Regions from separate parts of the Homo sapiens genome. Here region 2 is linked to region 1. The links come from fine-mapping of genetic effects on gene expression. A gene starts in region 1. The other region holds a variant in brackets. All regions are shown on one strand. Distances are from middle to middle. Region 1 holds the start of IQSEC3 (IQ motif and Sec7 domain ArfGEF 3). Region 2 overlaps IQSEC3 (IQ motif and Sec7 domain ArfGEF 3).

Region 1 (4,382 bases):
GCTACCCTGCCCTAACCCAACTTCTCTAACTCTACCACAGATGGTAAAAGAAAATGAGTTTTGAAGGAATACAGCAAATATTCACAAGTATCTCCCAGACTTAATGCACCTGGATGAAGATGAGATTCTCAGCTCTACTTCCCCCTCCCCATTCCCTTATGCATCACCATTGTCAAGGTCAGGTGCTGACCAGGGACAATTTCCCTTGAACTGTTCTTTGTTTAGTTCTCCATCACTTGCCTAATCAGAGAAAAGAAGCAGACATGGCCACAGCCTTTCCAGTACAGAGGAGAGAACATCCCAGACACTTTCATATCTTCTTCCCATATTCCTAGTTCATGGACCTCCTGAGTGAAGAAAGAGCTTGAAGTTCTAGGAACTGAGAGGTTAACATTTCTCTCAGGACCCAAGGCAAGATTTCAGTGATCACCAGATAACCGGGAAAAAAGGGTTTGCAGTTGCTGGCCTTAACAGGGAGATTTAAACAGGCATGGCATCTGAATACCAACTCCATCTGCCAACTGTCCCCCATGTCATTGCTCCCTTTCAACAACGGCCAAACACCCTGTATGAAAAACCCTCCTTGAGTTGGAGGAAAAAGCTGTAACCAGACTGAGTCCTCAAGCCATGCCTGAGTCCTCCATTGGTTTGATGGGATGTTCCCTTGCACCTCTTCGGCTCTGCGGGAATTCAGAGGAAGGGTGTCCAATCAGGTCAGAGAAGAGAAAGCTTCCCTAAATGAGCCACTCCTAGCTGTGGCTCCCACTTCACCAGCTAAAGAGCCACATTTTCTCTTCCTCTGCCTCCAGCTCCCTTGGTTTCCCACATCACTCCTGCTTTTCAGGTTTGTCCCCGGCCTCCTGGATTCCCCTCTACCCCAGTCCTACTCTTCCTGGGCCCCAGCCTTTTTAAAGCTCTTCACATGCCTCTTTCCAAGCCTTCAGCTTTTCTCACATCTCAGTCTCCATGCAAATACTTTTACTACCCAAACTTCCTTCCAAATTTTTTCTCACTTAAAAAGATTCCTTCAATGGTTCTCTTTTCTACAGTTTAATCTTCACTCGAACTTCAACCCAGCCTAACCCCGTTTAAATGCTGTCAGTTCCCAGTATCACCAATCGCTTAACACCCACCTCCTTCCTCCTTTGCTCCTACTAATGGTCTGGTTACTCCTTTTTGCTCCAGCATTCCCCAAAACCTTCTCAAGCAGGGATATCGTTCCCTCATTTACCCAAAATCTCCTTTGCACACTTCTGGCGCCTTCAGGCCACATCACTCCGGTCCTTTAGACTCCTACGCACCCAACGTCCCCGTCTCTCCCTCACACCCACTTGCTTCCCTTGCTCCCACCACAACAGTGCCCATCTCCTCTCCCCGCTCACTCAGGTCTCCTGCTCAGGACGCCCTTGCCGAGGGCGGAGGGGGATTTGTGCTGAAGGAGGGCTCCGGCAGCAGCGCAGCAACTCGGGGGACGCTCCTTCTCCTTGTCAGTCACGGCCCCTTGTGTCCCCAGATGCTTGTGGGGCGACTGGGGTGTGTGAGCCCTGCTGCCAGGGCCCCGCTGGGGCTGCTCCAGGAGCTGTCCGTGGTGCTGACGCGGCGGCCGATCGGGCGCGGGATGCGGCGCGGCTGCTGAGCGCTGTCCCTGGTCCTGGAGAGGTTCCTGGGCCCTGGCGGCGGCGGCAGGAGCGGTGGCCGGAGCGGCCGGCAGCGGGGCCGATGACGGGGGGACGAGCCCGGGCGGAGGCTGGGCTTGCAGCAGCTGCTGGTGCTCCCACAGGCTGCGGTTCTCAGCGCTCAGCTCGTCCAGCCGCCGCTCCAGCTCGTCGATACGCTCTCGCTGGGTGTGGATGAGGCTCTGCTGGTTCTGCACGATGGCCGTGAGCTCCTTGAGGTAGAGCACGGCGCGCACCGGATTCTCCAGCAGGCTCTCCATGCCGCCCGCCGCCGCCTGCGCCCTGCCTGCGCCTGGGCTGGCGGCGGGGAGCGCGAGGGCGCGGGAGCCCAGCAGCCCAGCGGTCGGCTCGCCTCCCTCTCCCACCGGCCCAGCCTCCCTCCCCCCGCCGGCGCCGCGTCACTGCCACCCCGACCTTCACACACGCATCGCGGGGCGGGGCGGCTGCGCAAGGCCCCACCCCCACCCCACCCCCTACCTCCAGACCTCCCCAACTCCTCGCCTCCCCACCTCGCTGCCTCTTGGCGTCAGCGAAGGCTCTGCTGCCTGCAGGGCAGAGAGGAGAGGGAGGAGGCCAGCGAGAGGGAGCCTCTGTCGGGGCGTGGGAGGAAAGCAAGATAACGCAGGCGACCCGAGAAGGACGGTGAATCTGACTGGCCAGACTGGGAAGTAGGCGAAGGGGAAGCAGCGATACTGGGAAGGTGCGGTGGGACCTGTAGGAGAAGAGAAACAGAAAAGAAAGGAAGAGAAGGGGAGAGGCCAGCAGAGAGGAAGCAGAAAAAGGGAAGGTGGGGCCAAGAAAGAGAAATGTGCTGGAGGACAGGAAGGCGTGGGGCCCTGAAGGGACGCGAATTCTTTTTTCCCAGGTCCAGGCCTTCCAGAGGCTGGGGTTCATCTAGAGACCTGCTGAGGAGGGGCCACACTCGCCTCTTTTGCTCGCAGCAATCTATTCTGCCAGGGGATTCCCTGGAACACAAGAATCCTGGGGCTCTAAGGGACCCTAAAGAGCGTCTGGTCCTGCTCCTTCCTTCATCCGTGACGAAACTTGGGATGGGAAGGCTGTTCATGCTGGGTTTCCTCTGGGAGTGAGACCTCAAGACAACTGTGGCAGTTCCTGATAGAAACACTAAATAAACGAGGTCCTCTGTGGCAAGGGCTAACGCTTCCAGAAGCTTCTGAATAGATCATTCTATTTGACAAACAGTTATAAAATGCACACTATTACCAAACACTGTGCTAGATGGTGGTAAGAGAAGCATGACTAGAATGGAATGTTAGGCTTTTTGAAGCTTATAAATAAGTGGGTGAAATTGGTCATGATTAACTTTGACGTATGATAGTGGTGGTGAGTAATCAGGCAGAGGTTTGCCCAGAGTGCTATAGGAGCCAGCAGCTTGGAGATCCAGGGAGGCTTCTTACAGGAAGTGACCCTTGGTGTGGGAAGGGTTTTCCATAAAGGGAAGACAGCATGAGCAAAAGCTCAGAGACATTAATCAGCACCGATTGAATCATTCATTCATGTCTACAATAATCACCACTCACTAGGTGCAAAGTAATGTACAGAATCTATGCAAGCCACATCTAGCATAGATAATAAGTTATCATTTCTATAATCAAGTTGATTCCAATCTCATAGAGTAGATATGCCATGCACATGAATAAGTAAAACACAACTCAAGATTTCTGTAAGAGCTCTTCAAGCCAAGTGCCATAGAGTTCAGGGGAGGGAGAGGATTCATTTGACTGTGTTGATCTGATAAGTTCTGACAGAGGTGTTACTCAAGTTGGGCCACGAAGAATGGGAAATATTTCAACAGGTAGACAGAACAGGGGGCCAGATATGAGAAAGATACATCAGGCAGCAGGGAAAAAACTAATGAATGGAAATAGAGCACTTGGTTTAAATTAATTTGGCAGGGAAATATCCCTTTCCTTTTCTTTTCCTTTACTTTTTTTTTTTTTTAAAGTCTTGTCTGTCACCGAGGCTGGAGTGCAGTGGCAGGATCATAGCTTACTCCATCCTTGACCTCCTGGGATCAAGGAATCCTCTAGCCTCAGCTTCCTGAGTAGGTGGGACTACAGATGCATACCACCATGCCCCGTGAAGGAAATGAGTTGTTCTTTCCTCTTTTATAGGAATGGGATGGGAAGGAGGAAGGGCTATGAGTACGCTTCGCATGTTTGTTATTGTGTTGTTCCGTTCTTCACACACATGTCCATCAGGCTCCCTGTCAACCTTCCATTCCCCCAGGGTAGGCATATTTATGGGTACCATGTGCCCAGTGAGCTGGCCCACCCCCCACCACCACGTGGTGCCAGACTTGAATGACCTTATGAGAAGGAACTTGTGCTCTGCACATATATTGGTTTATCTGCATTCCTGATGTGTTTTTATTTTGCTTTTCTCCCATTTATCTTCCTAGCAAACTTTCTTTGGTAAAGAATGAATAAAGGAAGCTTATCCACAGCTGAGCTCACGGTTAGGGGAAACAGCACACAGGAGGATGCTTTGGTAGTGACCAGCATTCCAGCTAAAGAATGGAGGTTGGGGGATGAAACAAGGGCACACAAAAACTCAAACTCTTTTTTCTGAATTTTCTTTGTTTGCCTAGTTGATTTGCTGTCCAAGAATTGGGTGCTTGGACAGCAAATTAGAGACGAATACGATAAGTGAAACAGCCTGCAGCATAATTATCCATGCGGATTG
Region 2 (4,382 bases), 62 kb before region 1:
CTTCCCAGTTGAGACCATGAAAGCACAGCATGTTGTGAGCCTCCAGAACTTGGCCTGGCGAGCCCGGGTGTGAGGCTGAGGAGCAGAGAGACTGGGGAAGCTGGTGCTTTGGGGGTGTTCAGAGAGGCCCACAGGAGCCTTGGGTCTGTGCTGGGCAGGGCTGTGGCCTCCTGCAAGGCAGGGGACTCATGCCTGCTCTGTGTGCCCTCCTCCCAGCCTGCTGTCTGGAATACAGCAAGTGCTTGACACGCAGGGCGTTGAGGCCTGCCTGGGAGTGGGCAGCCAGGTAGGCATGGGGGACACGCTATGGCTCAGCTAGTAGTGAGGTCATGAGACCCTCCAGTGGGGCTGCCCCAGGAGCTGGCTCTGATCCCAGGTTGGGCTGCCTGCCCTCCTCATGCTCCACAGACCCTGTGTGCCACTTCCATGGGGCCTGTTCCTCACTGTAATGCCAAGAGATGGTGGAAGGTACAGGGTCGAAACCATGGGCTGCGGAGTCCATGTCTTGGCTGCATTACTTCCTAGGACTGTGTCCTTGGGCAAGTTACTTAACATCACCATCACTCAGCCTTAATCTTCCCATTCCAGAAATGGGACGGTAATGGTGCCAATCTCACGGGGACGTTGTGCAGACCCGGGGAGATAACACATGGCAACCGTTAGCCTGGGCCTGACACAGAGCTAGTGCTCAGGTAGTAACACTGGTGCTGGCCCCGTGTCTGCCCACCACTGGGCTGTGGGCACCCTGATGACTAGGCCTGTATCTTTTGCATCATAGCATCTCCAGGCCTAGCACAGGGCCTGCGACAGAGCAGCTGTGCAGTGCTGTTCCCTGAACTGAATGAACCGGGGAGAGGGACAACCCATGGAGTGCCCTGTCCTCACCACTGTCCTCTGTAGGCTGGTGCCCTGGTGCTCTCTGTGCCCATGGTAGAAATCTCACTTTCAGCGTGGGAAGGGGCCAGGAGGCCCTCTGGTACAGCCTTTGGTTCACACATGAGGAAACCAAGATGCAAAGAGGGAAAGTGACTTAGAAACATAGCCACCACATCTTCCTGAAGAGGTGCCCCATAGTGAGGCTGGACCCTGAGGCTTGGGGTATGGGGATCTGTGGGGAGGGGCTGCTCTCCAGCAGAACATGGCTTCTGTCCAGGACCCGGCTCGGGGAGCAGGGCCCAGATTCTACTGACTGCAACTCCACAGCCCTCTGGCCTGAGCAGCCCAGAGGGCTCTGCAATTCAGATGGCTAAGAAGGGCTCCAGTCGCTCTGCAACAGGACACAAACTCCCTAGAGGGCTTGGAGGAATTTCAAAATGACACCTAGGCCCTCTATTCCTAAAGGGCTCCCCAAAGGGACCTGCATGCTCACTCCTTGGCCTGCCCTAGGTTGTATCCCCCAGGACTGCTGGGGTGGGGTGAGAGGGTCGAAGGCAGAGGGAGAAGGGGAGAAGAGCTGGCAGGAGGACCGTCTTGCTGTGCGACTTGTGACAGGTGCTGGGGAAGGGGCCAGCAGGGAGAACAGGAAGCTGGAGGGTAGGCCTCGTTTGCTCATTCACTTGTGCCTTCATTCCTATGTTCCTTCCCTGCTGAGCAGTTCCTAGGTGCCCAAGACTGTGCAAGGTGCAGGGCGGCAAAGATGGGCAAGGACAGGACAGTTCCCAGGGCACAGCTCCAGGAGCGCTGGCTCTTCACGTGGGCTATGCAGCACCCTGGAGGTGTCCCGAGCACCACCTGCTCAACTCCACACAGCCCTGAGAACAACATGGTCCATGCTGTTGAGCGGAACAGCTCCCACTCCCAGACAGCACAGAGGAGGCAACAGGCAATGGGTAAAAGCACGTGCCTCGGCTGCGACCTGAAGTATGAGCAGAAGTCTTCCAGATGCAGCAGATGGGGTCGGGGACAGGTGAGGAG[A/T]ATCCCCAGGAGAGGAAACAAAGCCACACAAAAGCCCAGAGGTGAGGGTGGCTTGAGATTCGGGACAGCAAATAGGAACGGCTGGAACCCCCATGGGGCTGGGACTGTGGCAGGGAGCCTGGAGAGGCCTCTGTCCTGCACACCGTGAGGAGCCATCAGAGGCTTTCCCGAGGATCAGCGCGGTCAGAGGTGCACTTTAGGAAGATGATTCAGCTGCAATGTGGAGGTGAGGTTGGAAGGGACAGAGCTCAAAGAAGGGGAAGCACAGGAGGTCTCCCGGCGTGCAGGCAAGAGGAAGGATGGCCTGGCCTCCTGGGGCAGGGGCACTGGGGAAGGCAAGAGAGGGTGGGATTCGGGAACTGTTAAGAGGCAGCATCAGTGGGGCTTGGGGCTAGAGCAGAGGCGAAGGAAGGAGAACAGCCAAGGAAAACCGTCCTGGGGATCTGGACTGGCTGACAGAGGAGGCTTGGCGGGTCGGTGGGCTGGGGAGCTAAGATTGTCCAACACCCCTCCCAGGCCATGGAACACGGGATTCAGTGTGGCTGGCGGAATCACTGGGTTGGAATATCAAGTGTTAGATCTCAAAGAGACCTAAGGCAGAGTCAGTTCCTGGCGCCATGCTGTATACCCATCCCATCCCCCTTTATGTCACTAAGTGATCATTTCCCGTCTCTTATCCTTCCAGCAGCTTCTTCGCCAGGCACTGCATTAAGCACTGAGAATATAATGAGGAACAAGTCATGCACCTGCCTTCAAGGAGGGGGTCAAGCAAACAGGAAATGCTGACACAGGGCTGAAGGGCTGTGACGGGGACACCCGGGCCCTGTGGGATGACTGAGAGGGACACCCAGTGCAGGCTTGGGAGGCAGGGAAAACTGCCTGAGAGGAGGAAGAGGTACCTAAAGCAAGTACTAAAGCAAGAGAAGGCCAAGTGCAGGGGTGTGGAGGGGAGCGGAAACTTCAGAGATTGAGGCCAAGGGAAGAGCCTGTGAAGTCCCAGACATAGGAGGCAGCTGAGGCCAGAGAAGTCAAGCAACTTGCCCAAGGCCATACAGCTCATGGCAGAAGAGAGAGGAGTCGAGTTCAGTCTCCTATAGATGTGTGCCATGTTCAACAAAAGCCAAAGTTGACAAATGGGATCTAATTAAACTAAAGAGCTCCTGCACAGCAAAAGAAACTACCATCAGAGTGAACAGGCAACCTACAAAATGGGAGAAAATTTTCGCAACCTACTCATCTGACAAAGGGCTAATATCCAGAATCTACAATGAACTCAAACAAATTTACAAGAAAAAAACAAACAACCCCATCAAAAAGTGGGCAAAGGACATGAACAGACACTTCTCAAAAAGTGGGCGAAGGGCCTGAATGTCTTATGCTAGTGCTGTGGGGTTTTCGAAGCTGGGAGCAGAATTTTAGATTTTTCCACATTTCATCCGACTTTTTTTTTTTCATTAAAACCATCCTTCTGTCCTGATGAGGTGTTTTTTGTTTTGTTTTGTTTTGTTTTGAGACAGAGTCTCACTCTGTCGCCCAGGCTGGAGTGCTGTGGTGCAATCTTGGCTCACTGCAACCTCCGCCTCCCGCATTCAAGGAATTCTGCCTCAGCCTCCTGAGTAGCTGGGATTACAGGCATGCGCCACCACGCCTGGCTAATTTTTGTATTTTTAGTACAGACAGGGTTTCACCATATTGGGCGGGCTGGTCTCAAACTCCTGGCCTCGTGATCCACCCGCCTTGGCCTCCCAAAGTGCTGGGATTACAGGTATGAGCCACCACGCCTGGCCCCTGATGAGGTTTTTACAAAGTCTGGGATGCTATCACCAAGGTATCAGCTGTTCTCTTTCAGCTTTATGTCATCAGAAAGCCAGGTGAATGTAACTTGTATGCCTCAAATTGGTGCCTTATCAGTGACCTGGACAGCATGTCCACTCAACTCCCTGGGATTTTTTTTGATGAATATTTTTTGGATAATTCGGTTTGAGAACAACCCTCCTTACTATATTGTTAGTAATCCACACATTCCTGGCATGTGCACATAGGGTATCTTGGGGGATTTGGTCAAACACTTTACTGATGTGCTGCCTACAGCTGGCCTGAGCCAGGATATGAGCTTGGCATCAATGCCAAGAGAGGAAGGAGGTTAGTTTGGCTTGACTCAGTCTTAGTGGCCTTCCCACTAGCTTCCTTTCTGAAGATACCTTGCCTATTGGGTTGAAGAATTGTTCTCTAGAACCTACACATTTTGGGGCAGAAGGGACCTTGGAGGTGATTCAAAGTTAATTCTCATTTTTTTGCAGATGAGGAAACGAATGCCCAGAGGGTTTAACTGGCAACTCCCAAAGTCACTGAGTTCATAGGAGGAAGAGCGAGGACTGGATCCCATGTCTACATCTCCAAGTTCAAAGCTCTTTCCTTAACAGTATCACACCATCACACCTTTCTCTAAGCGCACACACACACACACA

Evidence for each region. PIP is the estimated chance that this variant, and not a neighbour inherited with it, causes the effect.
Region 2: its variant is the best candidate, but not a certain one, in a credible set for the expression of IQSEC3 in subcutaneous fat (FUSION, PIP 0.89).

What each region holds. Positions count from the first base shown.
Region 1 is chr12:64,437-68,818 of GRCh38, reverse strand. It overlaps IQSEC3 (IQ motif and Sec7 domain ArfGEF 3), which reads right to left and starts at 2,052. Exons shown (of 14, transcript NM_001170738.2): 1 at 1,383-2,052. The coding sequence starts at 1,936.
Region 2 is chr12:126,558-130,939 of GRCh38, reverse strand. All of the region lies in intron 3 of IQSEC3 (IQ motif and Sec7 domain ArfGEF 3), which reads right to left. Among named protein-coding and RNA genes, the nearest start is that of IQSEC3-AS2, 17 kb to the right of the region's middle. The variant A/T (reference allele first, on the strand shown) is at 1,915.